4 linked regions of the Homo sapiens genome follow. The protein of the gene in region 3 purifies or fractionates together with the protein of the main gene of each other region. This does not show direct contact. Each region holds a gene or a part of one and is shown on either strand. Other genes may lie near its edges.

Region 1 (3,500 bases), about 26 Mb from region 3:
TTTCATAGAACATCTCAAACATGCTGAGTCCACCTTTTCAGTAATCACCATAGCTCATTCTGAACACTCATCTCTTTTCCTTCTTTATCCCCCTTTGAGATAGGGTCTCACACTCCCACCCAGACTGGAATGCAGTGGCATAATCACAGCTCACTGGAGCCTTGAACTTGCGCTCAAGCGATCCTCTTGTCACCTCAGCCTTCCAAGTAGCTGAAACTATAGGCACTCGCCACCACGCTCAGCTAGTTTTTAAATTTTTTGTAGTGATGGGGTCCTGCTGTATTGCCCAGGCTGGTCTCAAATGGCTGGCCTCAAGCAATCCTCCTGCCTCAGCCTCCTAAAGTGCTGAAATTACAGGCATGAGCCGCCACATCCAGTTTCATTTCCCTTCTTGACTAAACAATATCCTACGACTCCTGTGGTTTACAGCATGGAACAGCAAACTACAGCCCTTGGGCTAAATCCTCACAGCTTGTTTTTGTGCATAAAATTTTACTGGAACTCAGCCATGCCCCTTCATTTACATATCATATACAGCTGCTCTCTGCGCTACAATGGCAGAACTGAGGAGCTGCAATGAGACCAATATGGCCTGCAAAGATGAAACTATTTACTATCTGGGTATTTTGTAGAAGTTTAGTGATCTATGGTCTAAAGAGTAAAGACTTAAGCTTTTAATGTGGCAACAAGTACTTTCACAGTCCCCTTCCTACCTTCCCAATTTCACCTTCAGCCTAGCTCATCCAGTCACCTATGGCCTTGGCCAACTGAACCATGCGTGCATGCTCTCCTCCCTGAAACTGCTATGCTCTCATTTTCCCACACGAGAGATACCCTTTTCTCCTTGACCTTATATAAACTCACTCATCATTTAAATTCGGCCCCAATGTCATCTTCACTATTCAATCTACCCTGAACCTTGCAGACTAAAATGACCTCTTCCTCATTAATTCCCACAGGCCTATATTACAGCATTTGTGACAGAGATGGTCATTATTTGCCATCAGCCTTATTAGATCACTAAGGGCCTCCACAGCTCGTACCAGGTCTTACTCATATCAGTAGCCTATCATTCAGGAACCCTCAGAGAATTGCTCAGTAAACAAACCTATGCTAATGGTTGACTGATTTAGTCACTTAGACTTCCACAGAGACGAATACAGAAGTTTTTCAGTGTAACACTATTTCAGGTTATAGTTGGCATTTCTAGAAGATTCCACATGTATCACTTGGCATCTGACCTAAATGCACAAGTCTAGAAAGAGTTTTCCAAAATCACTTACCAATGAATTATGATCAGCTTCTTCGTAGGGATTTTTTGCTCTCCAAGGTAAATGAGGACACCAATTTTCAACCTAAAAAGCATCAGTGACACTAAATATGCAGCTTCATCTATAATGAATTAATATACATAAAAAGCACCGAGAACAGCTCCTGGCACACAACTAGCACTATATTAATATGTGCTATTTTTATTATTAGCCAAATTCCCATGCTTTTAGCTAGTATTCCAGATACAAGTGCCCTCTCAGATGAAACAATCAGCAGCAAAGGTCAGAAGGAAGAGATTATACTTTACATCTGTCCTTCGAAGTACTTTACAGCAATTAATTCCTTAGTCATTTAAGCCTCACATCTCTGTACCAGAAGGAAAGGCAGTCTAATGGCAGAAAGTTAAAAGACTGAAACATTGCCACTGGGGAATGAGAATGTAAGGTGTCTCTGTGACCCTTTAGCAAATGGACAGGAAAGATCCTTATCTGCTGTGGCATATCTGGAAAGGAAAGGGAATGGCATTGGAGCCACAGAACTCAATCCTTTATCTGAGTTAGGAATGCCACTGATAGCTTAGGGCTAATTGGTCAAGGTTTCCCTCATTTTCTAGCTATTTGCTTCACACTATCTCAAGAAATAAGGTGGTAAAACCTATCTGAGAAAGAAATGAAAGGAGGAGAAAAAAAAAAAACCTTGATGATCTTGTGAGAGCCAATCTGGAAGATGGATTGTTCTGTCAATGAATAAGGTTTAGAAATTGAGGGGAGGAGGAAAGAGAAAGGAAAAAAGAACTTGATTCTATAGAAATTATTTCAGCAAAGGTTATCAAAGACTATTAGGCAACTTAATTTCTAGCAAAAAAATGAGAAATGCATTAAAGTTATATTGGTGTCTGTTCTCTGTCAAAACTAGCCATAAAATTTGAAGACAGCATTATCACCCGTTTACTAATAAAGAATGAGATTATGAAATATGGCTAACAGGCATTGAAAATAATTTTTCTATGGCCAGGTAGATCTATAAAATTTAATGAGCAATAGAGTGAGGGAATGTCCTTAAAGGGGTCACTAAGATAGCAGAGACGTGTGGAGCTATAGCCTCATGGGTCAGCACAAGACAGTGTGCCCTCTCAGTCTGGGTAAGTTTTCAAAGAAACATGTCAGTTTTACTTAATCTGGAAGTTACTCATAATGCAAGGTGATCTTTACTATAACCAAAGTAATTGGCCTGATTTGCATAAAGCCATCTGCCACTGCAGATGATCCCAAAGCAATAAGCAGAGAGAAGCAAAGCTTGGGGAGAGGGCGGAATCTCTGAATAGGAAAAGTGAAATATTCTCTTATCTTCTTACGGGATAAAATTAGACCTTACCATATTTGTGAATGATTCAGAGACTCAAAAGGATTCCCCACAAGGAAAGCTAAAATGGTTTTTACTCATAAAAAAGAAAAGACCAACTTGCCTTGGAGGCCTACAGTCTAATTACTGGGATCTGACAACAACATGACCATGAAAGGCAATATCTGCAGCTCCACAAATGAGAAAAATGAGGAAAAACAGCAGAGAAAAAGCCTGCAAGTGGATGAAGCCTAAGCTGGTCTCAGTAGCATTATGCACATCTGTACCTTGTATTCTTAGGCCAGATTGAATTATTTAGCTCCAATTAGATTTGTGCTAATGGACTCAATAAAGCATATTTATAACATGAAGACTTCAAATGGATTGTAGACTTGATTGTGAGATCTTTAACCTCACCCCATCCCACCCCCAACCCTGCAAAAAAAAAAAAAAAAAAAAAAAGGATGAGCAAGGAAAGTAGAGATTTGAAATACACCTTACACCAAGTAAATAACCAAATTTACCAGCCACCCACCAGGATGAAGTTTTCCCAGGAATAGCATGATGGGGAAAGATGAAACAAGACTAAAGAAAATCAACTAAGAGGAGAGACATGAGCGAGACCAGATACTCATAAAGTTCTCTCCTCACTCTGCCACTGCAAGAAGAATCTTTCAAGATTCACTGTGATGAAAATACAGTCCCAGGTGATTTTTAAAAAGATGACTTCCCTACAGAAGCCTGAAGACTGTAATGCCTCTTTGAAACTGATCATTTATCTTAGTTCTTCTTATTCTAAATCACTGGGTATTACTCCCTAAGGCTCCAAGGGCACTCCTGAAAATATAAAATATAGAGTCAATCCAATTTAGCTTTTAGCAAGAAAT
Region 2 (4,192 bases), on a different chromosome or scaffold from region 3:
CTGGTGTAAAGCTCAGAGGAAAAGTAGCAGCTGGCAAAAGTTCAAAGAATAAAAAAAAAAGGCCTTGCTCTACTACTAGGCGTCGAGACTAACGAAGAAGCCATAGTAATTAATACAGTGTCGTTTTTGGTGCAAGAATCCACAGATCTCAACAGCACCTACCAGATACAGAAGTCGGTTGAACACCGGAGGCAGGAAGTAGCGGGGAGGGGGCGCGCTTGATGAGTGACCTCACGTGTGTGGACACAGCCAGCCCAGGGCCACCAGCTTAGTCATAAAAGCTTCCTGGGTTGAAACCTTAAACCACAGCAAGTGTTAGAGTGTCCCGGGCAGCTGGCCTGAACCCATCGCTTGGCATTTACGAGTCTACGTTCCTTTGATTTAAAGACGCTGAATGTGTAATAAAGCAGCTGCCATGAAATGTCATAGGTGTGAGAAAATCACTGTAAATCTTTACCGCAACGTTTTGCTACATTCTGTTACAATGTTGCTTTACAAGTCTTAGCTTTGAAGAGAACATTTATGTAGTTGAATACTTATGAATGGGAGAGCAAATAATATTCGCCTTTGGTAGTCATGAGTATATGCAAATGTTAAAAGCTACACAGTACCTGCTTCTTAATTATATCTTGTTTTCAAAATCATCAATGAGTGATCCTCACAGCGAGACAAAGTGAAGGGCATGTTCACACACAGGGTGAGAATGCTGATGGCACGGCCCTTAGGAAGTGTGTGAGTTAAATAAACTTGGATGTTTCATGACATGCAACCCGGTGGCTTGCATCAGGAGATTGATGGTAGAGTCGTTCATGAGTGGAGCAGCCCTGAAGTCCCCGCGCAGCTGGCGGGCAGGGCTGTTCTCCCTCCTCAGCAGCACCCCAGGTGGGGGCCTCCCCAGCTTTGCCCCAGCGTGGAGCAGCTGAGTTTAAGGGAGGCTAGTGCCAGACACTTCCAGTACACTGCAGGCGCTTAGCAATGGTAACTGGGTTTCGGTGGGCAAGGCATCGGCGGGCAAGGCATCGGCGGGCAAGTCATCGGCGGGCAAGGCATCGACGGGCAAGGCGTCGGCGGGCAAGGCGTCGGCGGGCAAGGCGTCGGCGGGCAAGGGGTCGGCGGGCAAGGTGTCGGCGGGCAAGGCGTCGGCGGGCAAGGCGTTGGGCGCGTCGGCGGGCAAGGCATCGGTGGGCAAGGCATCGGTGGGCAAGGCGTCGGTGGGCAAGGCGTTGGGCAAGGCATCAGCAGGAAAGGCATCGGTGGGCAAGGCATTGGCGAACAAGGCGTTGGTGGGTAAAGCGTTGGCCGGCATTTCCAGCTCTGCGTGAAGCCTGCTGCCCCCACAACCTTGCATGCTCTGGTGACTCTTAGCAGATCGAGCCGCAGCACAGGCAGCGAGGGCCCCGGGAGCCAGGGACGCCTCTGCCCTTGGGCTTTGGTGCTTTCAGAAATGCCTTCAAAGGGACTCTCATGATGAGAAGATCCAAGGCCCAATGCACCCTCTCCAGCCCCAAAGCCCCAAAGAGACCCCAGTGCCCCGAGGGTGGCAGTGACGGGTGTTTCTTTTTGTTTTTTCCATTTGTGCGCATTTCCTGCATTTTCTGCCTGTTGAGAATCTTTTCTTAAGCAGGAGGAAAAACACTTTAAAGGAGTAACCTTATAACAAGGGATAGTTGTGCGGGGCTCTCAGGGAAGGAGCTGAGGGCCCGGGGAACAGGCTGACCAAGCAGCCCGGCCTGGCCTGAGGAGGACCCTGCGGCCTGGGAAGCCCCTGCCCGTGTTGCCTGGGGAAGACCTGGGTGTCCATGCGTGATGTTGTACGTCGGCTCCCTGAGAGCAGTGATTCATGCCTGTCCCTACATCCTGTGTCGCCACATGGAGAGCAGAGTGTGACCCCTGCATGAAGAGAAGCAGGCACAGGGTGAGGGGAGGCTCGAGGTGCGTGGGAGCCTATTTCAGTCACCAATGCACTTCTGGGGGTGGTGAGTCCAAGGTCACTAAAGTCACCCAGACAGTTCTGAACATCCTGGCACCCCCCACAGGGCTCTCCCAGAGAACCAAAGCCAGGGAGGCGAGGGGTGGGCCCCCAAATTCCTGCAAAGAACCTCGGAGAAGGGCACCTGAGCACATGTCTGGACACACCAAGGCTGTGGTGAGGAAACCCAGAGCGGATTGTGTGTTCTTTAAAGAACTGACGACATTCAGATGGAAGAGCGCTCACTGTTTGTAGGGTGTGTGTGTCGGGCAGGGCGGCCCATTCAACCTGACGCCTGGCAGGAAGCTGCCCTGAGGTCCCGGAAGACCATAGTGGACCCCGAGGGGACTGGATCCTCCGTGCTGTGGGCAGTGGTGAAGCTGCCCTGAGGTCCCAGAAGACTGCAGGTGGGCCCTGAGGGGACTGACTCTGCCGTGGGCAATGGTGCACCCTGGTTTCCAGGAGGAGTGACTCTGCCCAAGCACTGGGGATGCGTGGCAGGCGCCTGGCAGGTCAGGGTGGAGACGGCCTCCCCTGCTTAGGGGTCTGCCCCAGGACGCAGGTGGGTGCTTACCTCCTCCATAGGTCTGGCACAGGTATGGGAACCGCCAAATGTTCCCCAGTCCCACGGCAAACCCAGTGCAGCTCAGGAGGTACTGGGCCTTGTTGTCCCACTTGGGCCTCTCATCCCCGAGGTCGCAGGCGGCCGGGTCCGGTTCTGGGGCATGAGCCATGGTGACTGAGTGCCCCAGGCTTCAGGGCAAGGGTGGTGCCTCACTCCACACCCAGCACTAGAGAGCCGTCTCCAGCCTCTGCCGACGTTTGGAAACCACAAGCAGCCCCACTGCAGTTGTATTTATTCATTTCTTTAAAGGAAAACCAGTGGAGTGCCGTTAATGGGTAACTCAGGTCCAGGCCCTGGCTCTGACGCCAGGGTCCTTCCCTGGCACCCACGTCCTCTGCTCCTTCTCGCATGCTCTGTGTTCCAGGCAAACGCCGGGCCTGGCACCACCCCCAGCACCATGAGGACCGTTTGCAAGGACAGCCTCAAGTTTTTTTGTTGCAGACACCAGGATTCCCAAGACTGAGGCATATTTTAATCGTTTTAAATTTCTTATGTTTTATTTAACCATTTGATCTTGAGATACTTATAGATTGTCACTCTGTCACTGTCAGAAACAACTCAGATCAGATCGCATGCACCCGAAGCCCGGATTCCCGCAGGGATCCTCTCAGCTGCTCTTGGGAGGCCGGGGGCTGCCCTCACACCCACTGCTGCCCTCGGGCCGCTGGGCAGGACAGGGTGACAGGCACCCACCGTGCGTGGGGGCAGAGGGCTGAGTCCTCTCCTGTGCTGGGGGCACCCCTGTCCATGGGTGGAGGGTTGATGAGTTGACGCCGGGTGAGTTCAGCTCTAAGGAGCTCCCCACAGTGCTCCCTGGACTCTGGGGCTCCTCCTTGCAGATGCTCCCGCCACGGACAGGCCAAGGGCCCCCAGGCCCGCAATTGCCCCATTCCACTGGACACTGCACCCCTCAACCGTGTGGCCACAACTCCAAATCCATGAGTCCCAGGGCAGGGGCCCAGGTGGACACATTTTTGGAAGGTTCTTATTTGAGTGAGAGGAAGTGTGAGGGAAGAAGATGAGAAGAGCTGGTTGGTCCCCATTGTGAGGCCACAGGCCTGGGCCATGGCCTCTTCGGAGCAAGCCCCCAAAGCCAGACCCCCCAGGAGGAGGCAGGAGCTGGACCTGCCGTCCCCACCATCCCGTCTGAGGTCACTGGCTCACTCATCCCTCTACGTCTGGACAACAGTAACTTCTAGGGTGAGCATACTCAATAGAAGGGATTTATTTAGAAATGTACACTTTATGCCCATAAAGCCTGCATTTCTACCACATTTACAGAGACATTGAAACCTATGAAACAACGCATGAATCAGGAGATGTAGATGAGATGGGAGCTCCCGCCCAGGGTCCTATGGCAGGCACACCAGGGTACACCAATGGATGCCAGGGCACATCAGTGCACACCTGTGCATGCCAGGGTACACCAATGCACACCTGTGCACGCCTGGCAGGGCCTCCTGGGCAGATGCCACAGGGCAGCATATTAATGGGGCACTGATGGAAATTTTCTCGATCCAGGGCCAAAGAGCAGGAAAAGATGAGGTGAGACCCTGTTGAAGCCATCAGCAGGCGAGCCCCTCGGTGGCATCACAGCC
Region 3 (4,042 bases):
ATTGCCCTTCGGGACTGAAATTGGGCATCACTTGATATCATTTCCCATGGGATATTTTTCCAATGAACGCTCACAGTTCTTGCTATGTTGCAAATGTTTAAAAACTCTACTAAGACTGTATAATGAAATATGTGTTGTTAGTGCAACTGTATTAAATATTAAACATATAATTCTAAGTTGATGTTTTTCAGAATTATTTTCAACGACCAAGAAGAATATAAAAAAGAAACAAATCACCCTTTAAACAGAACCACTTTAGTGCAAAGTAAGAAAGAATATCAGCTCCTGCTAACACAAAGAAGGTTTGAATGAGAGATGACTGCAGATGGTGGCCTGGGGATTCCTATGAGGACACACCCTAGCTTTTCCCTTTTATAACAAGGTTCATGAAATCTCTTTATTAGTGCTGTGGACTCATAACATGTGATTGTCTTCCTGTGAGGAATTAGTTATTAAATGAAAGAATTAGGTTTCAAAACAGGGAATCACTCAATTGGGAATATCATCACCCCCAAATTTATTTATGCAGATTAAAAACCATCACTAGATGGTATTCATTGGCACTTATTTAAATCTCAAAGTCACAACTTTATGCATGTATTACCGGACACGTTGAGATGCTGCCTATCACATTAATTAGCAGATACATAGCTTGTAATACTAGGACAGCTTCCCATTCCCCCACCTCTTTGTTTTTACTCTGTTTCCACCCACTCAATAGCCCAGGGAGCCAAGATTTGTTTCATGACTGTTCAGTCCAGTGATTTATTATAAAATCATTTTTGTTCAAGTACTACTGAGTTGAAACCAATTTATTTTTAGGTTTTAAATCAATAGAAAATTATTTTAAAATATATATAACTAGTGAACATAAAGAATCCCCAAAGGACAAAGACCAACATTTGCTTTGTCACTCTGAAGCCACACGCTGCACACTCACAGATGCCAAGGAAGGGAGGACTGCATGGAGCCGGCGGCGTCTGAACGTACCTGTCATGGTAAATCCACCAACCAATAAACCAATATCTCGGCCACCAACTATGATGGCTTCGCTGCGCTCTTCTGCGCTGCCACTGTTTTTGGTTCTCCAGGCAGCCCATATTCCAACCAGCAAAATTAGAAGGTAGAACACGATGATAGCTATCAGTCCTTCCACATGGAAAGCCATTTTTATCTAATGATCCAGATTCTTCTGCAGCTGGCTACTTCATTAAGTCTTCTGAAGAAAATACAGGGATGCATTATAAACCAGTCAAGCACTATGCACATGTAGGCAGCCAGGAATAAACCAGCTGGCTCATGCGAGATCCTGTGCCACTCACAGAAAGAGTACAACCCTGAAACCACACGTGAAACGGGCAGTTAACAATAAGTGTCCACTACATTATCCTACTTCTATTTAACAATTTAACATTATTTTGAGTTTGCAAGAAACAGAAAAAAAAACGGAAATGTAGTTTAACAAATGGAATCATAATCCTTGTGTGTTTCATACATGCTTTAAATTTAAAATTAACCTTGTCGTGTATATCTTAACTCAGTAACTGTCAAATCATTTACAAAGAGTAGCGCTGTATCTGCGTTTTGGAACTAAGTTACTCTTCTAGAATTATTTATTCTAGAAGTGTTAAGTGTTTCATAAATGACCATTCTGAAAATTTTAAAATATTCATTAATTTATTCATTCTTTTATCTGTCCTTTCAAACAACTTCAGAGAATGGCTTCAGTAGTAATCTGATATAAAAATATCTGAAAAAAATCTTTAGAAAAATCCATTTCAAAAACACATCAAACTCCACATTTTCAACAAGCTTCTGTAGTTCAAGTTACTATAGCAACTAAGTATGTTTTTTGTTGTTGAAAGGATCCATTCTCTTGATCTTCTTCGCCCAATATCCTTCATTCAATTCATCACCCCCCATTAATGGTACATACAGGAAAAGGTTTTGTTGTTGTTGTTGCTGTTGTTTTAAACACAATTGCCTAAAAGCACATCAGAAGCCTCAAAGATATTAAAATCAAGACTCTTAGAAGACAGATGTCAAGTTCGAAAGCATTCACCTTCTGAAATTCTTGTCCCCTTTTATTTTTATTTTTATTTATTTTTTACCTTTGTGACCACAGCTGTTCCATGAACCCAAACTCTCACATACAAGTTTCTGGGGGAAACTCTGACATTTGTGCGTGCAGGTGGGTGAAGAGACGTTGGGGGAAAGAATCAGCCTCTCTGGAATTTAAAGGAGGCAAAAGAAGCGCCCGCGGGCTGTGTCTTCTCTGCCTTTGTGAGCAACCAAGCAGGCAAGTTCCTCTCCGCAGCAGCCCGATGCTCTCCCGGCCCCCTGCGGCCTTTCCTCGGCCCCCTCTACCCATTTCCTGCGCCCAGACTTTGTAGCCTCTTGCACCCTGACAGCAACGGTGCCAGACAGCAAACCCGCCCTCGCATCCCACCGAGAGGGAAAAACGCCGCGTCCCTCCCCTCTAAAACCGCCCGGGCTCGGTGCCCAAGGCGTTTCCGAGGGTGCGGGCCCGTAGGCGCAGGAATGCCCGCTCCGCTCCTACCTGGAGTGGTGGCTGCACGCGAAAGCGCTCCGCCCGGGGCCGCCGCCCCCTGGAACCGCGAGGGGTGTGGGTGCGAGGGTGCAGAAAGGGAGGGTGCGGGGTGGGTCGGGGTGCAGTGCGGAGCGGGGCCGGGCGGTCAGGGCGGCTCCTCACTCGGCGTCTCCAAGAACCTGGGAGCGCGCAGAGTTGACAGGTGTTGGCGCCGGCGGAGGGCGCGCGGCGCAGGGCGAGGTGGGAATCGATCGAGTATTGGGAAAAGTCCCCTTTATAAGGGCGGCAGGCGGGGGCGATCGTCAGACATCCGGAGGCGGACGTCAGAGGAGAGTGGTGCTAGGGCGTGTGCTAGGGACGCTGCCCTCGCGAGGAGGGTGGGTGTGCGGGATGCGAAGGAAACGGGGCCCAAGGAGCTGGGGGGCAGGCTGGGCTCTGGTCCGCGCTGCCAGCCATGGTATCCCCATCCTGAGACAAGTACCTGCTACTCCCATCTCCTCCTCCAGAAAACTGGGCGGAGATTCCTTAGGGTGATTCCCAGTCGAACTTCTCATCCCTCTGGTTGGAAGCTGGGAATGGGGAGGGTCTCAGAGGATTATATTTTCAGAAGCAGCAGCTGGAAGCCTAGAGGAGAGAAGTGTCCTGTTCTTTTCTTCCCAGGTCAGAGTCTGGAATTGTTTCCTGACGAGTCTCTCTGAGAGGGAAGGGGTCCTCTCCCGCGGCCTCCCCTGGGCCCTGTTGGAAGCTGTTCCTGGCGTCCCTGGTGATGGGCTCCCTGAAGGAGACATTTCAGGAAGGTTTAGAAAGTCCTTTTTACATTCATACCCCTGCCACTTAAAAGTAGGGCTACCATGAAGGACACTAGGCGTGGTCCAGATTAACAATGAGGTTATCACAGAAGTCAGACAAGATGGCTTTCCTGGTAGAGCCCTTTGGGCAGCTGGCCTGCTGAATATCCTATTCCAGCTTACAAAAATTTGCTGTGTTAGTTTACAATATATCCATATACCTACCTATTTTTATAGATTATTTATATATTACACATATAAATATGTATCTATAGATGTATTTCTACATCTAGGTGTACATGGATAGATGCAGATACCTGTGTGAATGTGAATGGAGGAAGAGAGAAGGGTGGGAGAGAATAAGATAGAAGAGTCACAAGCCACAAAGCTACAAGCACTCTGGCCACTTTCTCACTTCTTTCCGCATTCCACCATGAGAGTGTATTTAACAGTGAAATACACAAGTCTAATAAGGGATAGAATAAATAAGAGTGCCTCTGAACTACTGTTCACCTCTCTAGGCCAATCAGACCATCTCCCCTTTTCTTACACTGGATTTTGAAATTAACTTCCAAATTTATGTTACTACCCCTTTTCTTTCTTCTCTGTATAAACAATAACTGCATCCAACTACCTCTTTTGAGGTGAGAAAGCCTAGGGAGTTCAAACAGAAATTAAGACGGGCCAAAAGGCCTGCAAAGAT
Region 4 (3,500 bases), on a different chromosome or scaffold from region 3:
TACATAGCTCCAGAGTTAGTCCAGGCTGACTTAGCCTTCAATGTTCCAACAATACCTATTCCCAGAAGGCTAGAACAGAAGGCACTTTACCTCTTAGCCCAGTGCTTCCCAAACCTCAATTGTGCATGCAAAATCACCAGGGGGATCTTGTCAAATGCAGATTCTGATTCAGAAGGTCGGGGGTGGGCCCTGAGATTCTGCATTTTCTAACAAGCTACGAGGCAGTGGAGGCAGTGATGATGCGAGCTAAGAGGCAGTGATGATGCTCAGAGTGTGGGGACCACAAGATTAGAATTTCACTAATGAGAAGTAATTGCCTGAAGCTAACAAAGGAGATGGAAAAAAGAAAGAGACAAAGAGAAAGAATAAGAGAAAGCAAAGTATGGGTCTTGAGTGTGTGGATGCAAGAGGGAAGAATAAAGGGAGTTTTTAAAAAGAAGAGCCATCTGCAATGGTGAGAGTGAGCTGCCTTCAGCAGGTCATGGGCCTAGAACATCTACCAGGCAAGGAGAAATGACAAAACAACCTAACAGAAAAAGGACAGATGCTGCTTATAAGTGCATTCCAAGACATCCAAGATGTTGACTTGATATGTAGGAGCTACAGGGAGAAATGAGCTACAAGGAGCTAGAGGGTTAATGAGATTAGCGCTAATCTCATTAACCCTTTCTTACACCGAGGAGGAAACCCAGGACAAGGTAACTTGTCCATAGTCACAAAGTTACAGGCAGATTTGCATTTGCACACACCCAGGTTTTTTAACTCACCTTTTAACAAATCCTGCTGCCTAACAACAAGAAAAAGAAATCACATCATTGTGAGCTCCAGATGAAAGGTGGGTGGTCACAACTTGAAAACAAATTAGATCAGTTAGAACAGTGTCTTCCTATCTGGGAAAATCAACCTAGTGTAATTATAATGACGGTAATTAGCTGCCTCTATCATTCAGGGCACTGATAGAAAACCTGTGGCTCCCACGTCCCTAGTGACTTGTAACAACTCCCTGGCTGGGTTCTGTTTTCAGAATTAAGTGAGGCACTTCCTGACAAGCACTGCAGCAGCTGTTCCCAAACGGGCAGGAGTGAGCATTGAAAATGCAGTCCTCTGCACCCTTTCACTCCCAACCCAAACAAAACCAAGCAAAAACATGTAACAAAAAATGCTTATTTTATTTTACCTTATCTTATTTTATCTTATTTTATTTTGAGATGGAGTCTTGCTCTGTCACCCAGGCTGGAGTGCAGTGGCGCGATCTCATTTCATTGCAACCTCTGCCTCCCGGGTTCAAGCAATTCTCCTGCCTCACCCTCCCAAGTAGCTGGGATTACAGGCACCTGCCACCACACCCGGCTAATTTCTGTATTTTTAGTAGAGACCGGGTTTCACCATGTTGGCCAGGCTGGTCTCCAACTCCTGACCTCAGGTGATCCCAAAGTGTTGGGATTACAGGCGTGAGTCACCGCGCCCGGCCTCAACATAACGATTTTAAATTAGCTGTTCTAACAGTGAAAAGACAACTGCAAGATACCAATGGTATACAGTAGTCCCCCTCCTCCAAGGTTTCGGATACCGGAGGACAACTGCAGTTTGAAGATATTTTGAGATATTCTGAGGTATTTTGAGATACAGCATATTCACGTTTTATTACAGTAGACTGTTAGAACTGTTCTGTTTTGTTATTATTGTTAATCTCTTACTGTGCCTCATTTTTTAATTAAACTTTATTGCAGGTATGTACATATAGGAAAAAACCATGGTATATACAGACTTCAGTACTACCCAAAGTTTCAGGCATCCACTGGGGGTCTTGGACCACATCCCTTGCAGATAAGGAGGGACTACTATATCTTCAAAATACTGTTAATTTTCAGTTACTGGGTTTACCATATCCGGATCAGTGGTTCCAATGCTCAGGGGCTAAAACGGAGCTGTCAACTTGTTAAAATGAAGATTCCCAGGCACTGCCACCAAAGAGTCTAATTTAGAGGCTAAGGGTGAGTCGTAGACATCTAAATTCTTAACAAGCACCCCCACATCCCCAAATGATGTTGATGCAGGAGGCCTAGGGGCCACACTTTTGAAACATTTAAGTATTTGTTTATAATATCCTAAACGACTCACAAAGCATAAATATTCACCTAGAAATGGCCAATAATAAAACAGCACATTAAGAAAAAAATTTCACACACCATAAGCATAAATGCAATAAAAAAATTATTAAAAGAACAAATGGCAGATCTTGCTAATCAAAACAACCAAAAACTTCTACATTTCAAAATTATGTAAAATTTAAAAGAAATTCCTTTGGAAGGGGAAAACGCAACATATAGAAGGAAAAATGGTTGCTATCCTTCTAATACATAAAGATTTAAATACATATCTATGCCACAACAGGTAAATAAATAAAAATACAGAGAAAATTCACAGAATACAAATACAAAATAAAAAATATTCAATTCTAAAGCAATAAAACCGTGCAGGTTAAAACAATGTATTACAAATTTATTTAACAAGGGCTTTTAAAGTAACATTCAATGCCAGTGATGAAGTGAATACTCAATGCAAGTGATAATGGAAGGCCCCTGCGTAAGCTTCAAGGGCTTATGTCAGCATTATAACTTTCAAAAATTGCTTCATTCAAAAATCACATACTGAGTACCTACTAGGGGCCCAGCATTTTGAACAAAAGATGCAGAAATCCAGCCTGGTGGGCCTTACATTTTAATCACACTCTAATACCCCTTCCACAAATGTATACTCAAGAAAACACACACACACACACACACACACACACACGGAAAGAAACATGCACAAAGCCTTTTTTTTTTGAGACGGAGTCTTGCTCTGTCGTCCAGGCTGGAGTACAATGGCGCCATCTCGGCTCACTGCAACCTCTGCCTCCCTGGTTCGAGCAATTCTCCTGCCTCAGCCTCCCAAGTAGCTGGGATTACAGGCACATGCCACCACACCCAGCTAATCTCTGTATTTTTAGTAGAGACGGGGTTTCACCATGTTGGCCAGGATGGTCTCAAACTCCTGACCTCAGGTGATCCGCCCACCTCGGCTTCCCAAAGTGCTGGGATTACAGGCGTGAGCCAGCGCGCATGGCCAGCAGAGCCTTCTCTATGTAGCTATTCATCAGCATTACTTACAGCAACCCAAAAAATGGAAATAAAAGAATAAATCATTAGGATAGAAAATAGTTTTCAAATAAGACTTAATGAATGGAAAAATGCTTAAGTTAAATGTAGAGTGGAAATGGTAGTAAATACAATTGTGCATATAATTCTTTTTTTAATGTTAACAACAAAAAAACGATAAAATTACTTAGTGTTACCTACAGGCTGTGAGATTATGGGTGACTGGTTTCTGTACCTTTCAGTAATTTCCAAATTCCCTACAAAGCAATCTATTTCATAATAACTATTACTTTTTAAAAACTTATCTCTGAATAAGGTGAAGAAACTGGGCATGATTCTTTGTTTTTATACTGTGGATGG

What was found. Proteins that work in one complex are often made in the same cells at the same time.
Region 1: the proteins of SLC5A7 (region 3) and MGAT5 purify together in Homo sapiens (affinity purification with mass spectrometry; one large-scale study listed by BioGRID and IntAct). This does not show direct contact.
Region 2: the proteins of SLC5A7 (region 3) and SLC6A18 purify together in Homo sapiens (affinity purification with mass spectrometry; one large-scale study listed by BioGRID and IntAct). This does not show direct contact.
Region 4: the proteins of SLC5A7 (region 3) and KIAA1549 purify together in Homo sapiens (affinity purification with mass spectrometry; one large-scale study listed by BioGRID and IntAct). This does not show direct contact.

What each region holds. Positions count from the first base shown.
Region 1 is NC_000002.12:134,334,072-134,337,571, reverse strand, and holds part of MGAT5 (alpha-1,6-mannosylglycoprotein 6-beta-N-acetylglucosaminyltransferase A), read right to left. Parts: intron 1,356-3,500; coding exon 1,284-1,355; intron 1-1,283. UniProt on the Homo sapiens protein: Catalyzes the addition of N-acetylglucosamine (GlcNAc) in beta 1-6 linkage to the alpha-linked mannose of biantennary N-linked oligosaccharides.
Region 2 is NC_000005.10:1,223,989-1,228,180, reverse strand, and holds the start of SLC6A18 (inactive sodium-dependent neutral amino acid transporter B(0)AT3), read right to left. Parts: upstream 2,801-4,192; 5' UTR 2,704-2,800; coding exon 2,544-2,703; intron 1-2,543. UniProt on the Homo sapiens protein: Does not show neutral amino acid transporter activity.
Region 3 is NC_000002.12:107,985,282-107,989,323, reverse strand, and holds the start of SLC5A7 (high affinity choline transporter 1), read right to left. Parts: upstream 2,801-4,042; 5' UTR 2,561-2,800; intron 1,338-2,560; exon of another isoform or gene 1,220-1,337; 5' UTR 1,169-1,219; coding exon 991-1,168; intron 1-990. UniProt on the Homo sapiens protein: High-affinity Na(+)-coupled choline transmembrane symporter. Functions as an electrogenic, voltage-dependent transporter with variable charge/choline stoichiometry.
Region 4 is NC_000007.14:138,974,890-138,978,389, forward strand, and holds part of KIAA1549 (UPF0606 protein KIAA1549), read right to left. Parts: intron 1-3,500. UniProt on the Homo sapiens protein: May play a role in photoreceptor function.